Linked DNA regions of Homo sapiens. The protein of the gene in region 1 purifies or fractionates together with the protein of each later gene. This does not show direct contact. Each region holds a gene or a part of one and is shown in the gene's direction. Other genes may lie near its edges.

Region 1 (5,809 bases):
AATCCTAATAGTGGATTATACCATCTCTTCAGTCTTCGTGTTTAAGAAATAACCTCTTTGGCTTACAGATTTGACAAGATCAAAGCTGCAGGAAAATGGACAGTGAGGTTCAGAGAGATGGAAGGATCTTGGATTTGATTGATGATGCTTGGCGAGAAGACAAGCTGCCTTATGAGGATGTCGCAATACCACTGGTAGGTTATGATTTGAGCTGAGGATGGGTTAAAGGTATTGATCTGGCAGTAACTAGTGGAGGAGGGATATCAATGGAAGATAAACTAGTGTGGCAAAGAAATCAAAGCTGTGGAATTCTCTAACTCTAGAAGCTTCTGGAGAGCATCCAGTTGTATGTTTTATTTGAAGAAAAATGTGGTTCAGGGAGCTAACATGGCCAGGTCAGTTAGGAGTCATGCCAGGACTAGAGCCCCGATTTTCTGAGCCATGTTCTGTCCACCACACGAAAACCAGAGAAACCAAATAATGAGAGTTTAATGCGCAAGATGGGGAAGAACAAGAAGCAGCAGCATATGAGCTCTGTTTCTTACTTCCCTGCCTGTGGCTCATCAGTCTTTCAGCATTTTTAGAAACTTACATTCTTGGAGCATACACCTATCTTAGGTTCCCTGGAAAATATTCAGAAGATACCTGGGTATTCTTTTGCGTTTAGGCCAGTGGCCTTCTGGAATACTCTTTTCTTCCCCATCTTTGGAAAACTCTGCTGCAGGGAGTTTGTTAAACCTCATGTAATAAGTGATCCAAAAGTTTTGCTTATATAAATGTTTGTTTAAAATCCTATTTATGTCATAGAGGCCTAAAAAAGGGAAAACAGGACTGTTTTTCTTTAAAGCATGCCAGCTGCCCTGAGAAGAGTAGTTAGTATTGAATAAAATATAATTTATAGTTAGAATATCTGCTGTTGCTGTTTGCAAAGAAATAAAATAGTTCATCTGTATTTTCATTTACGAATAAGAGATAGTAATATGTTCAATGAATAATATACATATCAAATAAGTCATAGCTTAGTTCAAGCTTAGGAAAATAGTCAAAAGAGAGAGCATAATAAGAATTATAGATGTCATTTATTGAATACCAGTTTTATGCCATGGACTGAGGTTGGAAATATACATTATCTCTAATTCTTAAACAACCCTGTGAGGGAGGTGCTGTTATTCCCATTTTATAGGAAAAGAATAGGATCAGAAAGGGCAACTTGCCCAAAGTCTGGTAGCAGGTAAGTAGGGCTTCATATAACATATACCTAGGTCTGTGAAGTTCCAAATCCTGTCTTGTGAACTTCTGTTCATTCATTCATTTGACAAGCATTTTTTGAAGCCTACTGTGTGCCATAAGACTATGTGAACATAAGATACAGTTCCTCCTCCTGAGGGGTCTAGAAAGGCAACACTTATAGATAAGTAATTGTGATAATAAATATTCTAGGTGGGGGCATAAACAGCCACATCATATACGAAGTGGCTGATTGCCTGGTGGGCATCAGAAAGGCTTCTGAGAGAATGTCATGTTTAAGCTGGGTCATAAGGAAGGACCAGAAGTTTAGTGGAGGTAGACAAGGGTATTGCAGCAGAGGGGACAGATGTGTAAAGGCCCAGAGTTTTGAAAGGCTTTGGGACATGGTGAGTCATTCACTGTGGATGAAGAATACATTTGTCACATAAGTAGGCTGAAAAGTTGGGCTTGGATCAGATTGAGAGTGGTATTTGATATCACACTTAGACCTCATCCTCAGGAGATCCAGGAATGAATGGTCTTAAAAGCAAGACTGCTATGCTCAGATTTGGCTTTTGGAAAATCAGTTTAGCCAGCATTGTTAGAGATGGTGTGACATGGAGATAGGGGCAAGTGAGACCAATTGGCAAGCTGTTGTGGTCTAGGCAAGGGAGGAGGGCCTAAACAAAGTCAAGAAAATAAAGGAGACGTCCATTTCTGGAGAAGTTTATGGCTCAGATTGGAGAACATTTGGGTGGCAGGGGTGGAAGGAGGTTTCCCTGCTGACTTCCAGGCGAAGTTGGCTTGGCCCTGCTGCTAATCCACACCTTTCGCTTGTCTTGCGATTCTAAGGCAATGTGTATGCCAGTTAGGTTTTGCTGCATAACAAGTCACCCCAAAGCTTAGTGACTTAAAAGAGCAACTGTTTATTTCATGATTTTGTAGCTCAGCTGGGAGGGACTTCTAGTCTGCACCAGCTCAGCTGATCCCTGCCAGGCTTGCCTGTGTTGTGCAGTCAGCCAACAGACTCTGGAGGCTGGGTAATCTAGGACTGTCTCACATGTCTGGCAGTTAACAAGCTGTCTGCTGGGTGATGGGGTGACTATGCCATGGTCTCTGGTATCCAGCAGGCTAGCCCAGACTTCTCAATCTCAGGGTTCCAAGAGCAACCTGAGAGGAAACGGCAGAGCTTCTTGGAGCTTAGGCCAAGAACTGGCCCACTGGCATGACAGCTTCATTCTGTTGGCCAAAACAACTCACAGGGCCAGTCCAAATCCAAGATTGGGGAAATCAGTTTCACCTTTTGATAAGAGTAGCTGCAAAGAACTAAGGGCATTTTACAGTACACCATAATGGGTGGCTGGGTTTATGATACTTTTGTTTTTGTTTTCCAGGCATATATGCCATTTTATGTGTTGGCATGTATTGCAAGGGACAGTAGATACCAAATGAAAGACACATTATTTTAGAAAGCATACCACAGATAGGATGAAATTAAGCAACGTTGTCTGCTTCTGAATTAAAGAATTCATTAACCAAGGACCTATTTATTCTTTGTCATCTATAAGTAATTATTAGGACTGAACTTTCTTTTTAAGTTTAAGATAATATATTATTGCGTTACAATAAATGATAGCTCTTCTCAATCTGTTCAAGTATGTTTGAATCTGTCTTGTAGAACAAGATGTATGTGATTCAAATATAGATAAGTAAATATCATTTAATATATATTGAGCATAATTTTAGAGGGGAAAACATATTCACATACTACAAATTAGAATCCAGTGGAAAATTTTAAGTCTGGATATCGCATAACAGTTTGCTAACCATAAAACAAAACACAGATAATTGAAAAGAAATATATTGGTATCTGTGAACTCTGGTACAAAGCAGAGTTTCAGTAGTAATACATTTAAACTTAAAATACAAGTAAATGATCCCAGATCCTACAGTAAGTGTGGCCCATGACTTACCATTTTAAGAAAATTGCTGGTAGGGTGTGAATTGGTCATTTGTTGTGTTTTTTGTTGCTCTGCTCCACCACTAGAGGGAGGTCTTATCTATTAATTACATTTTCAGTGTTTCCTGCCCTACCTCCATTTTTATTATAATATAGACATGTTGGGCCAGGCGCGGTGGCTCGCGCCTGTAATCCCAGCACTTTGGGAGGCTGAGGCGGGTGGATCACCTGAGGTTGGGAGTTCGAGACCAGCCTGACCAACATAGAGAAACCCCATCTCTACTAAAAAAAAATAAAAAAATACAAAATTAGCCGGGCATGGTGGTGCATGCCTGTAATCCCAGCTACTCGGGAGGCTGAGGCGGGAGAATCGCTTGAACCCGGGAGGCAGAGGTTGTGGTGAGCCGAGATCACGCCATTGCTCTCTAACCTGGGCAACAAAAGCAAAACTCCATCTCAAAAAAAAAAGACATGTTGGGTCCAAGATAATTTTTTGGATACATTTCTTGTGTCTAAGGAATATGCCAGCAAACTAGTATTCTTTTAAAGCACGCTCCCGCTAAAGAAGATTTAGGATTCACTCATCTCAGTGTTCCTAGCCGCTAATAATAATAGCAAATATTCCTTGAGCACTGGATACCCCACAGAGTGCTCAGCACTTGATCTGAATTACCTCACCTAATCCTTACAGTAGTCCTGTGAGGTGATGGCTCTTTTGTTCTCCCATTTGCCAAGGAAGAAACAAAGGCCCCAAGGGTTTGCATACCTTGCCCAAGTAACCCAGCAAATGGGAGAGTTGTGGTCTTGGATCCTAGTTGGCTTCCAAAAGCCTCTGCCCTTAACCTTTCTGCCACAGTGCCTCCTTCACAAATGTCAGAGTCAAAATGCCCATCATTCCCTACTGAAGAAGGCCCGGGCCATGTTTGAATGATACTTCTGATAGTTTCCTCACGTGTATGATTTTAGCTTTTTTAGAATACACATATCAATTATGTTGCCTGTTCCTAGGAACTCACAAGCTTTAATTCTAAGTGTTCTTGAGTTCCAAGAAGATGCAGAATATATTACTGTTCTGAATTTCTATTGTACCTTTTCAGAATGAGCTTCCTGAACCTGAACAAGACAATGGTGGCACCACAGAATCTGTCAAAGAACAAGAAATGAAGTGGACAGACTTAGCCTTACAGTACCTCCATGAGAATGTTCCCCCCATTGGAAACTGACGCTTGGCTCCTTTCTTGTGGATGGATTTTCTCAAAGTACACAGATAAAGCATGGTTTGTTTCAGTCTCCAAATTCAAACCTTTGAGTAATAAATCAGCACTCAAAAATGTACACCCATTTAGTTTGTGGTAGCAAAGTGCAATGCGAAATTGAATGAGAAACTGAGATTTCTCAGTAATGGTGAATATTTCGCTCTTTAAACCTAAAACTCTTCATTGAGTAGCTTATATTTGAACATGATTGGTTAAACATTTGCCTCTACCTCTGATTTTGCTTTGCTGTCAAAGTTTAACACCTTCCAACTACTTATGTGTGTCCTGTAACACAGGTGATTGAACGTATGAGAGGGAAAGGCAAAGAAAAAGGAAGCCAGACACTAGGAGAATTATTAACTTCTCATACTTCCCCACATTGAGAAGCATTCGGAGTGTATTTAGCCTGTAGATGTTGTGATATGCAAATATCCCATTCCCTGGTTACTGGCATTCCTAAGATTCTTCATGGTATTTTCAAACTTTGGATAAATTTACAGATTAGAAAGATATCTGACAGTTAATCTCTGTTCTCCTTACAAATTCCTTTTGTGCTGCTGGAAAGGATCTTTGGCTAGGTGGATGACTAGTTTTATTCAAAGCCTTTTCTCAAAGCCCTTTCAGTTACAACCACCCCACTATGGAATCAGTATTTAGTTATACATTTGTATAAGAACCTGTATTTTGAAAAACACATTCATGTATATTTATTCCTGGAATTATTTGCCTGTTAAACAGTGTCTTTCATGTTCTCTCCCCAGATTGTAAACTCTGTAAGAAGCTGCTTGTATCTGTATCCCTTGTTGAAACTCTGAAAACACTGAATAACTAAAATCTCTTCTCATCCTTTTTATGCTGGGTCTTTTTGTTTACTTAGCTTTTAGGAGGAAGAGGTACATGAAAAAACAAATTAGCTTATTTTAGGTTTTCAATCACAAACATGATTTTAGCAGCTATCCTATAATCCAGATACATCCAGGCTGATTTCTTCTCTTTGCATCAGTAGTTCTGCCTAGAAATCTTTTATCTTCAGAATAAAGACCCCAAGGCACCAGTCCCTTCAGTAAGCAAAGAAAGACAACCTAATAGAAAAGAGACTTACAATATTAAAAAAACTTATACAAGAGAAAAAGCTTTTCAAAAAATTAAAATACCTAGAACGCCACAGTTCTTTCACATTCTTGTTAAATGAGGATTTTACAGCTTACTTGTGGTATGTAATCTCTGAGACACTAACATCTAAGAACTTGACAAATGTTCATGTGAATCCTGCCTAGCCTTTCCCTGGAATATTAGTAGACCAGTAAAATATGAAAGCTATTCTTGATTTCTGCTGAACCAGAATATGATATCTGTAAGACAGCTG
Region 2 (7,029 bases), on another chromosome or scaffold:
TAGTATCTTAAAGGTTTGTTTCAGTGTGGAATCTAAAATTGCATCAGTGAACGTTTTTTACATTAAAATTCATTCATCTTCTTGCACTTTGAACGGATCTTTTGTCCACGCATAATTTTGTAACATCCTGCTTTGGTCATTTGGGAAGTATTGGTTCCCTGAGTCATCCAGCTGTTCTAAATGCCGCCACCTTTTATCAAACTATAAGCTAGATTTCATTAATAGCACCACCAATTTAATCAGAAAAGTCTTTGTGTTGTGAAGCACACAGGGGCAGATGCAGGTTTTCCAAAAAAAAAAAAAATTTTTTTTTTTTTGAGACAAGATATTTCCTCTGAGTAGTACAGTGGTGCAATCACAGCTTACTGCAGCCTCCACCTCTCGGACTCGCCTCTTGTAGCTGGGGCTACAAGCACACACCACCATGCCTGGCTAATTTTTGTCTTTATTTTGTGGAGACCTGCCATGTTGCCCAGGCTGGTCTTGAGCTCCTGGGCTCAAGTGATACGCCTGCCATGGCCTCCTAAAGTGCGGGGATTACAGGCATGAACCACCGTGCCCAGCCTATTTTTGCTTTTAACATAAGTGCTTTTCCTCAAGATAACCATCATACTTTGTGTAGCAAAAGTTCCTATGTATAACTCTCAATTCTGTCACACAGAATATTAAAGATTCGTACTCAAGGGTTGAAAATAAAGTTAATAATTTAATGACTTCATTAAAGATAAATGAAACTATGAGTATGTGGCAGAAAAAGAATACAGTGACTGCTGGTATGATTTGGGACTACTACCTTGACTCTTGGCTGAGACACTTACAGCTTTCCCCACCATCAGTACAAATGTTAGCATAGTGTAAAGGGCAGGTGACAGCTACATTATTATAAAACTAGTATTGACTTTGTGGATCCCCAAAAGCATCTTGGGGATTCCCAGGGGCTTGTGGATCTCACTTGAAGAACAACTGCCATAGAGTATATTGACAGTACATTGACAATGGATACTTATGAAACTAATTTATAACTTGCATATGTTAAATTAAAATATGCTCATGAAAAAGAAACACAATTTAAGTTCGATTTGTGATCTCTACATCTACAACATAATAATCTTTTAATACTTTGTGGTTTGTTTAGTTGCTTGACTAAACAAACTACCAACTGTTCAGCAGTTTCTTTAATTTTTAAGATAGTAGCTAGCTAACATTTATGGAGGGCTTAATTCTGCCACATACACATAGCAGATTTTGGCTACCTCACTTAGAATGATAGTAATGCACTTTCAGAGGACTTGGCAATAAAACAAAGTAACTTATTAAGTTAAAAAAGTGTTAAAAATAAACCGATTTTAGGCCCTAAGTCTTTGATTTACTAAACTTAACTTTTTTTTGTCTTTTACTTTTTTTCTTTTTCCATTTTCCCTTCCAGGTATGAATAAACTTAAATTTCTAATTCTGTATTTCTAGTACTTGAAAGATGAAGATGATGATCTTGTGTCACCCCCTAACACAGAAGGAAACCAGTGGTATGACTTTCTTCAAAATAGCAGCCACCTTAAAGGTACTTCATGAACCAACCAGATTTTGGCCATTTTTGTTTTTATTTAAGACTAGGTCTTGAATAGTTCTGCTAACAGTTTTGCTGAAAACTTGCTGAACACTTACCTAAGTTTATTAGACTTATATTTATTTGATTATAGGAACAGCAAAATAACCAATAGTGTATGACATCACCATGATAGATAGAAGACACTCTGAAGTTAACTACGCTGTAGGAAGATTGCTTATTCCTAAGTGTTCTCATATAAGTGTTTTGCACCCTGTAAAAAATAGGATTTTGAGGGAAACTATAGAGCCAAATAGTGAGAAAAGTCTTTTTTGCCAATTCCAATTTATTATCTTCTGAAAGCACAGGGATGCTCAACTGTATTCTCCTCGGGTTGTAGTTGGTGTGTGTGTGTGTGCATGTGTACTTGTTATACCTTTCATTTTCTAGAATGTCAGAATGTTAATACCGTAAAGCTATCCAGCATTATTAGGGATGCAGCACATAATAGCAACCATTAAATATGCCAGCACATCTTACCATTTTAGATGAAAATATTTTAAAGCTCGTATTTCTTTGATGTCTGAAAGAATAATCTGACCAGATTTAGCAATTGCTTAGATCTTTAAGGTAGTGGGTGCTTAGTCTAACTAAACATTTATGGGGTGCTTAGTCTGCCATATACACACAATACCTGCTTTAATCCTCACAAGATTCTATGGGTAGGTACTTGGTATCACCATTTACTAATGAGGAAACAGAAGGTTAGAGAAGCCCAGGATCACACAAGCTGGTTAGTGATGGAGCTAGGATTCTGTTAATGTGAAAGCCTGAGGTTTTAACTAGACTGGCAGTACAGGTTGAGCATCTTAATCCAAAAATCTGAAATCTTAAAATGCTCCAAAATCTAAAACTTTTTGAGCACCGACATGACACCACTAGTGGAAAATTCCATACCTGACCTCATATGATGGGTCCCAGTCAAAATGCAGTCAAGACTTTGTTTCAAGCACAAAATTATTAAATATATTGTATAAGATGTACATGAAGCATAAATGAATTTCGTGTTTAGACTTGAGTTCCATCCCCAAGATATCTCATTATGTATATGCACATATTCCAAATTCCAAAAAAATCCCAAACACTTACAGACCCAAGCATTTTGGGTAAGTGAAACTCAACCTATAGCAATTTCTGCCACTTGTATTTGGTTGCTGCTTCTGTGAATGAATGAATGAATGAATGAATGAATGAGGGAGAGAATTCTTTGATGCCAAGAACTTTGCATATAGTCCAAATTCTTTTTCAAGGCAGAACCTATTATGTATTGCCAGAGAGTCTTGAGGTCAGTAAGGAGATGCATTGGTGCAAGTTGGCTATTGAATGGAGGGAGGATAAAGGTACAGGAGACGCTACTTATTTACTGTATTTAATCAGGATGCCCAGGGAATAAGGCAGGATGTCTGGAGAGGGTCAGTGGCAGTGCGTCAAGAGTAGTGGCACCTGGACCCTGTTGCTATTTTGGCTATTATTGATCCAGGGAACTTTGCCAGGCTAAAAATAGGTCCTGTCCTCTTTTATTTGCCCCACATCTTACGTGTTTGAATAAGAAAGGCCTGATCTTAGCTACAGACCTAATGGAACTCACTATTGAGTTCCATAATGAATTCTAGTGAGGAAATATCAGTGAAACTGTTTTCTTACACTGCAAAAATCAAGTGCTAAATACTTGATCTGTGTACTTTCTTTAGGGTACATGGGTCAGTATTGTGTGGTGGGTAAAAGTTGGTGCTCTGAAAGCTGGATTTTCTGGGTTGGAAGCTGCTCTACTACTTCGTAGTAACACGGCTGAGAGCAAGTTGCCTAACCTCTCTGTGCCATAGTTTCTCATCTGTAAAATGAAGATGGTAATAATGCTGCCCTCAAAAAACTGGTGTGGAGATTAAATAAATTAATCTACATAAGCACTTAGACTAATGCCTGGCACTTAGCACAGAAGCAGTCTGTAGGTTAGTGTCTGAGCACTTTTTACTCAGTGTTTCTGACAACAAAATGAGAGAAATTTTTTTCCTCCTGACACCAACCAATTTTGACACCAACGGGGTGTCCTACAATTCAATTCTGACACGAATTACAGATAGTTAGCGCAGACCTCACAGGATAAGGATGCAGTCCCACAAGACTGCCCTCGCGTCAAATGTCAGGTCTCTGGGTCCCCACATCTCTTGGGTAGCCATGCTTGTTGTCTGACTTGGCTATAAGGTTAAGGTCAAGAGTTCCCAGAACCTTCCTCCCTTTCAGGTTGGATAATTTTGCTAGAATGGCTCACAAAACTCCGGGAAACATATAATTTTTGTTTACCAGTGTGTTGTAAAGAATATGACTCAGGAACAGCCACATAGAAGTGCTATATCAGGCAGGGTATGGAGAGAAAGGTGCAAAGCTTCCATGCTCTCCCAGCACCTGGACATATTCACCACCCAGAAAGTTCTCTGAACCTCATTGTCCCAGTGTATTTCTGGCGGTTTCATTATGTAGACATGATTGATGAAGTCATTGGCCATTGGTGATTGAACTCAACCTCCAAGCCCCTCTCTCTTCCTTGGAGGCTGGCGGGTGGAGCTGAAGTTTCCAAACTTCTAATCAAGGCTTGGTCTTTTTGGTGGCCAGCCCCTATCCTAAAGCTATCTAGGTGCCAGCCAAGAGTTGCCTCATTAAAACAAAAGATGGTAGTCCTAGCACTTTGGGAGGGTGAGGTGGGCGGATCACTTGAGATCAGGAGTTCGAGACCTGACCAACATAGTGAAACCCTATCTCTACTAAAAATTAGCTGGGTGTGGTGGTGTGCACCTGTAGTCCTGTTACTCGGGACACTGAGGCAGGAGAATCGCTTGAATCCGGGAGGCAGAGTTTGCAATGAGCTGAGACTGCACCACTGCACTCCAACCTGGGCAACAGAATGAGACTCTGTCTTTAAAAAAAGAAAAAAAAAAATGTTCCTGTCACCTTTATCACTCAGGAAATTCCAAGGGTTTTGGAAGCTCTGTTCTAGGAACTAGAAACAAAGATCAATGTTTTTCTGTGATAACATAGCATCTGTCACCTTGAGAACTTAAAATGTTAATGTGATTGTAGTTCATTTTATCCAGCATGGCTTTATCTAAGGGAGGGCCTACAAAGCACAGTGGAAGAGGGTGGGCATTAGAGTCAGACTTGGGTTTGATTGACAGAACTAGATACTTAGTTATTTTCACACTGGGCAATTGCCTAAACCTGTTAAGCTTCATTTTTTTTTTCATCTGTAAATTGGAGAATATGGTGTTTACTTCATATGGCTATTGTAAGCAATAAAAAAAAAGGTATTTTAAACACCTAGCATAGCAGGTGTTAGTGCTAAATTATATATTACTTTCTCCTGATAAAGTAACCTTTTAAAAAGTAAAGAGCTTATTTATATAGAGCTAGTTTCCAGTCTCTTGTTTTAGAGACTTAAAAAACAGTACTGGACTGCTGTTGTTGTTTCACTGTGGCAAAGAATAGAAGAATGAATTTTATTTCATCATATATTTGATGGTTCCCAAATCATTCCTTGCTTCTTATAGCCAGCAGAAACCTACAGTTGGATTTTGGTGAGTCTAAGTTTGTAGTAAGTGAGATTGTTTTTAGTGAGCTGTCAGCGGGGGTTGATGAAAGGCAGAAGACCATGGTCGTTTTTAATGAGGTTGTGTGAAAATCCAATGAAGTGGTCAGTGAAAATTCTACCTCGAGATAAACTGTGCAGACTGGCTCTAACAGTAGATTATTTTCTTCTAATTATAAGTTTGCTATAGCTTCTTTTATTTTTGTTTCTGTTTTTGTTTGAAACCAGAAAGTCCTTTGCTGTTTCCTTATTATCCTCGAAAATCATTGCATTTTGTGAAAAGGCGGATGGAGAATATTATTGATCAGTGTTTGCAAAAGCCAGCAGTAAGTTTGAAAGAAATGCATGTCTTTGTGTAGGAGCAATAGTGTCTACAGTATGTGGCTCACTTATGTAAATGATCTTAATTTTTAGAATGAACTATGAAAATGTTGATAGTCAACTGTTTTTGATTAACAAAAGTAACAATTTCATATGGTTCAACCTAATACTCCAACTTAAGTTTCTTACACACGTGTGTGTGTGTGTGTGTGTGTATAAAGATTACTGAAGGTGTTGGCATCTTGAGTATTTTATTTGTTCCCAGAAGAAATTCATTGTAAACAGTCTTAGTTACAGAGCTGATGTGTCTCTGCTTACTACTGAAGGATGTGAATGAATGGTTGTTATGAGACCAGAGGGAGGTGGTCTTAAACCTGCCATGTGCTTAGCACCAAGGTCCTTTTCAGCTCAGAATTTTCTCTTTTTCCTTACTGTTACAATTGTCATTAACGTTTCTTATGTACAAGGTTTGGTGATGTAGGCGATTTTTTTACCACATTCGAACAGTGATGGTCAGTCACTTTCTGTAGAGTATCTGTGTGCATATTAACGCTCTAATTATATTTTAAAATCTTATTTTATATAGGATGTAATTGGAAAATCGATGAATCAAGCAATCTGTATTCCATTGTATAGAGATACCAGAAGGTAATTCTGTTTACCTATTGGATGGTGTAATTCCGCAGCCAATTTAAATTTTTCTCATTTCTTTTTCCCTTTTATTTTAGTGAGGATTCTACACGTAGATTGTTCAAATTTCCTTTTCTGTAAGTATATATTTCTTCCCTATCTTGAGTGAACAATACAATTTTGTTTTATCCATCAATAGTTAAAAAATATTATGACAATTTTTTTTCTTAGGTGGAATAATAAAACTTCAAATCTACATTATCTTCTTTTTACTATTCTAGAAGATTCACTTTATAAAATGTGCATCTTAAGGAGACATACTGATATTTCTCAGTAAGTATTAATCTGAAGTTTGAATCAAAGAGATAAGATTTTATTATTTGTAAGAATGAAGCATACAGCCTTCCAGCATTTCAGATTTTAAACTACTTTGTGACTTTTAGATGTGTCATTTAATTGTTAGTTTTCATGTCATTAAAAGGGTAACACTGAATTAGGAAGTTATATGATCTTGTTTTAGATTATTTAATTTTTATTGGCATATAATCATTGTAGGACTTTTTTTAGAGTTAGGAAAAATATGACAGCTCAGGATATTATACTTCATTTTTTAGAAGTTAAAAACTTCCGAAAAACTAAAAGTTAAAGAAGTTTTAACTTTTTAGAAGTTAAAAACTTCTAAAAGTGGCTGCCTTATAGAAATGATTTTTGCCTAGGGTTAAGTATGCTTTTCATTAAACAAGAGGCCTTGCCTAACAGAGACTTACTTTGAAATTGAAAGTAGAAGTTCTGAAAAATAAATCATATTTAGAACGCCATTGGTAGCTTAAAAATGGTTTTAAACCTGAATTTGAAGAAAATGTTGAGACCACGATGTAACCAAAAAGAAATAATT
Region 3 (7,029 bases), on another chromosome or scaffold:
TGCTCTTAACAGGAAGATGAGTTCAAATTTGAGAAATAAAATTTGGATGTTGGGAAAGAGAACAAATCTGCTTATATAGCCAGAGAGCTATGCCTCTGGATTTGTTGAGGGGGAAAGAGTATTGTCTTTGTTCTGAAAGAAGCTCTAGCAAACCAACCATTGATTTCAGATTAACTTCTTGATCCTGAAACTGTAACTTCCCTGTCTTCCCAGCTGCTGTTAATCATGTTAATTCCATTATACTGCATGCCTATTTCACCAGAGCTCAGGGATGCGGTTGAATAGTCCGTCCTATAATATTTGGACAGCGGATGTTTCCCAGTTGGCCAGTGAGGCTTCTTAAGCTGCCATTTGGAGATTTAGGTCAGGGCAACTCTGACTACACCCTTTGATATTTCTTACAGTTTCCAGTTGGAGCTTCCTTCTTTTGCTGGTAGAGATTTAGGTTAGGCAAGTGCATTCTGTTTTTTTCTGAAGTTCCAGTAGGGCTTTAGCAGGGAAGTAAAACTATTCAGTAAGTAATTGCAAACAACTGTATGTGGAATCCAACATGTTGCCCTTAAGAGTTAGGTAATTGGCTGGGTATGGTGGCTCATGCCTGTAGTCCTAGCACTTTGGGAGGCTGAGGCGGGTGGAACACCTGACGTCAGGAGTTCGAGACCAGCCTAGCCAACATGGTGAACTACCATCTCTACTAAAAATAGAAACAAATTTAGCCAGGCATGGTGGTGCACGCCTGTAGTCCCAGCTACTTGGGAGGCTGAGGCAGGAGAATTGCTTGAACCCAGGAGACATGGGTTGCAGTGAGCCGAGATGTCACCACTGCCCTCCAGCCTGGGTGACAGAGCAAGACTCCATTTCAAAAAAAAAAAAAAAAATAGTTAGAGTTAGGTAATTTCTGGTTAAGTAACCATAGTGTGTGGAAGGGTGTGCATGAATGTTATAAATGCTGCTAGGGTGGAGGAGTATGCAGAGAAAATCTGCCAAGGATTGTGTGGGTTTGGGGTTTTAAGCTGTTTTTTTGTTTTGATGAGCACTTTGTGCCAAAAAGTTATTCCTCTGTTCTCCTCAACTTACTGGCATGAAGAGTTGAGAGTTGACTCTTCTCAAGGTGGCCTCCTCATAGGGCGTCTCGCTGTGGGTGTGGAAAGAGGCAAGGGCTGCCAGTTGCAGTCTGTTTGGTGCATGTGGTAAGTACTGTTCATCTCGTTTAGGGAAGCCCTCAGCAAGTGCCTTTTGAGACAGCTGTTACGTTTCAAATAAAAGAGTCTTTCTCCCTAAGTTGCTTGACAATAAGTCCTTTATTTGTCAAACTGTAAATTCACTTTAAGACTCTAGGAGCCAGGCCAGGCACGGTGGCTTACGCCTGTAATCCTAATACTTTGGGAGGCTGAGCTGGGCGGATCACCTGAGGTCAGGAGTTCGAGAGCAGCCTGACCAACATGGAGAAACCCCGTCTCTACTAAAAATACAAAACTAGCCGGGTGTGGTGGTGCATGCTTGTAATCCCAGCTACTCGGGAGGCTGAGGGAGGAGAATCGCTTGAACCCGGGAGGCGGAGATTGCAGTGAGCCGAGATGGCGCCATTGCGCTCCAGCCTGGGCAACGAGAGTGAAACTCTGTCGCAAAAAAAATAAATAATAAAATAAAGACCCTAGGAGTCTTCCATCTTAAACCTAGCCCTACAGGTGACCGAATGCAGCTGGAGAATAACTGCTTGTTAAGAGGCAGCAAAACCTTGGGTTTTGTTGGGAACATCATCTCTCACTACTTTGATCTCTTGGCCATATGACAGACTAATCATTAGTGTCGCATTTATTCTTCCAGTGGTCAGATGGGGTGCTCACATGCTGCAGGTTCCTTACATGTGCTTGTTTCCTTCCCTAAACTGAAGGTGCCTTTGAAGGCAGTCTTTTTCTACATCCATCAAGTTCTCTGGGGAAGAGCACTTCTTAGCTATTCCATCAACACTCTTGCCAGTCTAATCTCACCATCAGTTTCCCGTGGCCTGCCCTTTGTCTGAAACTTTGAAGGTTAGCAATTTGGAGAGCTGTCAGAGTGGAAGCATGGGTTGGAATGGTAATGGCATTGAATGTCTTCACGTGTTTTACTTTTTTCAGGTCTTATCGAATGTTACTTAGCCTCCAACAGTATTCGAGAAGCAATGGTAATGGCTAACAACGTTTACAAAACTCTGGGAGCAAATGCACAGACCCTTACCCTTTTAGCCACCGTTTGTCTTGAAGACCCAGTGACACAGGAGAAAGCCAAAACATTATTAGATAAAGCCCTGACCCAAAGGCCAGATTACATTAAGGCTGTGGTGAAAAAAGCAGAACTACTTAGTAAGTGTGTCTTATTTTCTGTCCTGTTCATCATTAATTTTTATAAAACCTGACCTCAGTTGGAGCCCCTTGTCCCAGCTAGTTACAGATGACTAGACAGGTGTGTGCCTTTTGCAGCAGGTCTGAGCCTGCTTGGATTGGTTTATATTTAGCCCAACCAAACGTAGCTGGCTTAGATCTGCTTGGCTTGGTTCCAACCACCTATAATTGGTTGGTATCTATTCGGCTCACTAATTTTTTTTTTTTTTTTTTTTTTGAGACGGCATCTTGCTCTGTCACCCAGGCTGGAGTGCAGTGGTGCGATCTCAGCTCACTGCAACCTCCGCCTCCCGGGTTCAAGCAATTCTTCTGCCTCAGCCTCCTGAGTAGCTGGGACTACAGGCGTGCACCACCATGCCCAGCTAATTTTTTTATTTTTTATTATTTTTTTTTATAGTAGAGATGGGGTTTCACCATATTGGCCAGGCCGGTTTCGAAATCCTGACCTTGTGATCCACCCGCCTCGGCCTCCCAAAGTGGTGGGATTATAGGTGTGAGCCACCGTGCCCAGCCTCGGCTCACTGTTATCTGGTTTGAGTTGTCCTGAATTAGTTGGAGCTGAATATAACTAACTGATTTTAGCCATTTTGAGTGGAGCTATCTGGATGATTTTATGACTTCCCGTTTGGCCCTTTTTTTTTTTTTTCAGTCCTGATTTATGATAAACTCATAATTTGGTTCATTGAATTTGGGCTAGTTGGCAAAGCAGTTTGGCTTTTTAAAGTTAAGAGCCCATTTAAAACATTATAATTCAAACTGCAAATTTCTTTTTTTTTTTTTTTTTTGAGATGGAGTCTCGCTCTGTTGCCCAGACTGGAGTGTAGTGGCACAATCACGGCTCACTGCAAGCTCCGCCTCCTGGGTTCAGGCCATTCACCTGCCTCAGCCTCCCGAGTAGCTGGGACTACAGGCACCTGCCACCAAGCCCGGCTAATTTTTTGTATTTTTAGTAGAGACGGGGTTTCACTGTGTTAGCCAGGATGGAAAATTTCTTAACTGAATAGGGCTTCAGGTGTGCTTGCCCTCGCTTTGTGTTGCACCAGTGTTCTCTTGAGGATGTCTGCAAAGAGATGGTCAGAATGGTAGTTGTGGTTTTTTTGTACATGACTTAAGTGAGGGTCTTTTTTATTCCCCCAGGCAGAGAACAGAAATATGAAGATGGAATTGCTTTGCTGAGGAACGCACTGGCTAATCAGAGTGACTGTGTCCTGCATCGGATCCTAGGAGATTTCCTTGTAGCTGTCAATGAGTATCAGGAGGCAATGGACCAGTATAGTATAGCACTAAGGTAGGCACTAGCCTCCCTTGGGGGAAGGCCACTGAGGAGGGTAGAGGAGGCAGTGAGCTGTGTCACAGGAGTTATGGAAACACACACACACTTTGTGTCCATGGTTGAAAGCAGAATAATAATAGTAATGGTAGAAGAGTTATTTGTGAATTCATGACTTCTAAAAATTTTTTCTTAAAATATATTAACAACATTAGAGAACTGTTTCACTCATAACCATCCCACACCACTATAACATCTGTGTTCATTTGTATAGCTCATCTTCTGTCCTTGCCCACACACACATATTTTTATAGGGCTGTACCTAGTATATATTTTATATTCTTCTTTTTCAAATCAAAGTATTGTAAGTACTTTCCCATGTTTCTATCTACTGTAGTCATTAAGAACTTGAGGTCTGAAGTTTTGAATACTACCTTCACCACCTGTGATCTTGGGCAAGTTACTAACACATTTCCTTGTCTATATCTAGCTACCTTATTAGATATTAAATGATCGAATGAGGGTTAAATGATTATTTCATGTAAAGCTCTTAGCCCTGTGCCTGGTACATAGTAAATGCTAAATAAATAGTGGTATTCTTACTGTTTAATACAGAAGTGGTTTCTTTGAGGGTTGTCTGTGTGTCTGTAAGGTTATGGTGAAGGGCTGTCTTTAATAGAGTCTGATCACATTCAATTGTTCAGCACACAGTTGAGCACCACTTGTGTGCCTAGCATCTCAGTGACAACTGGAGATGCTATGTTTCGGGAGCTGTCAGTCTCAGACATGCAGACTGGCCATGCCATGTGCTAAGGGCTTTCATAGTAGTCTGTAGAAGGGAAGGTGGGAGTCCAGAGGGCAGGAGCCCTGGGTATGGGTGAGAGCTTCAGAGTACAGGATGTGGAAGGCTTCAACCAGGAGACGAGGAGATGTTACAGATCGGTCCGCATTTATATCGGTAGAAACGGTGCCAACATGGGTTTTAGCTGCTTTTTAGAATCTCAGAAGCAAGTGAGAAAATAAAATATCAGACTTCCATTAGAGGTGGGGTTTGCTAGGCGTGGGACGCCTGCTGGCTTGGGTGATGGTCACTAAGGCAAGAGGAAAGATTGCTTAGGAGGCAAATAAATGAATGTTCTAGAGGCTCTGAACTTTGGGGGTGGGGGTGGCGTATGTACTGACACTCAGCTGCTAAATGTGAATGCTTGGGTAGGGGTAGCCTTGGGTCCTGGGGTCTGACCTAGGTGTTTACAAGTCTGTTCCATGGTACAGCGTGATGTTTTTGGTTGGCTCCTGAAATGCTGCTATGTTTAATTACATCATAAGAACATGGGACACCTATACTCAGAGAAATTCCTATTTTTTGTAACCCTGTAGCTCTAAAACCCAACTTTCTGGGAATTCCATTTGAATTTACCTGGTAATGTTTGTTTGCCACTTTTTCATTTGTGTTATCTGGTAGCCGCCTCTAGCAGAATGCTAGGGGTAATAGGTATGAAAAAGTTTAAGAAATTTGTGGAGAAAAACTCAAATTGAGAACTCTAAAAATTAGGAAGAGACTCCTTTTTGCACTTCTGGTGGTGGACTCCCTCAACCCAGCCTTGGAAGCCTGAGTTGTTTGGAGAGGCCAGGCTTTAGCACATTTTTTGGGACTGTGTGGTCATTTCACTGCCGGGCCAGGGAGATGACGAATCAGCCAGCAAGAGCAAGGCAGAGATTCAGGCCTCTCCTTTGTTTTGTTGTCCCCTAGTTTGGACCCCAATGACCAGAAGTCTCTAGAGGGGATGCAGAAGATGGAGAAGGAGGAGAGTCCCACGGATGCCACTCAGGAGGAGGATGTGGACGACATGGAAGGGAGTGGGGAAGAAGGGGACCTGGAGGGCAGCGACAGTGAGGCGGCCCAGTGGGCTGACCAGGAGCAGTGGTTCGGCATGCAGTGAGGGGGCGGCAGCTCCATGGCCGCAGTGGCCTGCCCTGCTCTGAGCACTTCCGTGGACTGAAGGAACCGTAGGAGCCTGCTCTCAGAAGGACAATGATTCAGCATGTGATTGCAGCAGGGGTCTCTGCCCCCTCGCTCCCAATTCCTAGTCGTGACTTCATTTCTAAAACAGAGCCTGACCAACCTTCCATGTATCTCCATCCTCCCCTGCTCCAGCCAGGGAGGACTGAGGGAGTGCCCCGAGACCCACGCACATGTTGGGGCTTCTGGGCCAAGAGTACTTTTTATATAACTAATTTCTAAATCCAAAAGCTCAAGGAATAGACAGTGTTCTGTGACATGGATTGGTTTGAAGGAGTTACCCACCATCCCAGCACGATAATGTCATCTCCCAAGTTGGATGGCAGCACGATCTGGCCCTAGGGAGCTTCCTGTTCCCAGAAGTCATTGTCCTGGGCTATCCAGATGTCCCTAGTAAATCTTGCTTCCTTCTGCAATGTTAGTAATGCCTTAAGCTGACAGTTGCTATTTTGCAGAACAGTTTTCCTCTTTGCTTAGCTAGTAACTTGCCTCTGAGCCTGGGCTGATCTGAGAAACAGGTGTGACAAGAGCATGAACCAGAGGTGCACCTGGGGCAGTTCCCTAATAAAACTGGTTTGTACAGTCATGGTGTTGGGGTGATCAGAATGGAAGCCCTTTTCAAAATAGACTCTTAGTATTTTTGTCTTATTCGCAATGCATTGATTCAGCCCCAGAATTATTTGCCAGAAATAGACTTTCTTCCCCTGGTGTTGGGAGCCAGGAGGGTTGGAAAGCTCAGGAACCCTGAGCTGGTTCATCTGTTTGCATATTGGGTAGGTTAATTTCCCTGGAGCCTGAGAGTCTTTGGCCAGATTTCAGCTGCGTCTGCCTGGCTCTTTTGCTGCAGCTGTGAGATTGGGGTCTGGTTCCAGCAGTCTGTCACTGGTCAGCCTGAGTATCACACCCTGAGCTCTGGGGCTGGGAGTTTCTTCCCACACCCTCTCCCTTGTGCCTTAAGTTGCGATGGCTCTGAGTATACAATTAATCGGAGGTGAGGGGTGGGTGTCACAGCTAATCCCAAATTCAAAAATTAGTCCAAGGTGCTGCAAAATATAAATTTGATGTCAGTAGAAAGTCGTATCCTAAAATGTAAAAACTGTAAGTGTACAGTAGTTAATGAGCTCAGAACATCTGATAACTGCAATTTAAAATGGGCAAAAAGTTTCTATGAGTCTTTCAGTCTAAGACCCAAAGCCTGCGCAACATCACTTGATCTGAGCCACTTCTAAAGAGACATATAAGGCTAGGCGTGCTCACACCTGTAATCACAGCACTTTGGGAGGCCGAGGCGGGTGGATCACTTGAGGCCAGGAGTTTGAGACCAGCCTGGCCAACATGGTGAAACCCCCGCTCTG

Evidence for each region. The genes of interacting proteins can lie anywhere in the genome.
Region 2: the proteins of ANAPC13 (region 1) and ANAPC4 purify together in Homo sapiens (affinity purification with mass spectrometry; 10 studies listed by BioGRID and IntAct, with this or other methods). This does not show direct contact.
Region 3: the proteins of ANAPC13 (region 1) and ANAPC7 purify together in Homo sapiens (affinity purification with mass spectrometry; 4 studies listed by BioGRID and IntAct, with this or other methods). This does not show direct contact.

The regions. Positions count from the first base shown.
Region 1 is NC_000003.12:134,477,191-134,482,999, reverse strand, and holds the end of ANAPC13 (anaphase-promoting complex subunit 13), read left to right. Parts: intron 1-68; 5' UTR 69-95; coding exon 96-194; intron 195-4,284; coding exon 4,285-4,410; 3' UTR 4,411-5,294; downstream 5,295-5,809. UniProt on the Homo sapiens protein: Component of the anaphase promoting complex/cyclosome (APC/C), a cell cycle-regulated E3 ubiquitin ligase that controls progression through mitosis and the G1 phase of the cell cycle.
Region 2 is NC_000004.12:25,408,234-25,415,262, forward strand, and holds part of ANAPC4 (anaphase-promoting complex subunit 4), read left to right. Parts: intron 1-1,464; coding exon 1,465-1,558; intron 1,559-5,411; coding exon 5,412-5,509; intron 5,510-6,090; coding exon 6,091-6,152; intron 6,153-6,232; coding exon 6,233-6,271; intron 6,272-6,365; coding exon 6,366-6,467; intron 6,468-7,029. UniProt on the Homo sapiens protein: Component of the anaphase promoting complex/cyclosome (APC/C), a cell cycle-regulated E3 ubiquitin ligase that controls progression through mitosis and the G1 phase of the cell cycle.
Region 3 is NC_000012.12:110,372,709-110,379,737, reverse strand, and holds the end of ANAPC7 (anaphase-promoting complex subunit 7), read left to right. Parts: intron 1-1,894; exon of another isoform or gene 1,895-2,033; intron 2,034-2,120; coding exon 2,121-2,345; intron 2,346-3,521; coding exon 3,522-3,672; coding exon of another isoform or gene 3,673-3,676; exon of another isoform or gene 3,677-4,264; intron 4,265-5,404; coding exon 5,405-5,594; 3' UTR 5,595-6,838; downstream 6,839-7,029. UniProt on the Homo sapiens protein: Component of the anaphase promoting complex/cyclosome (APC/C), a cell cycle-regulated E3 ubiquitin ligase that controls progression through mitosis and the G1 phase of the cell cycle.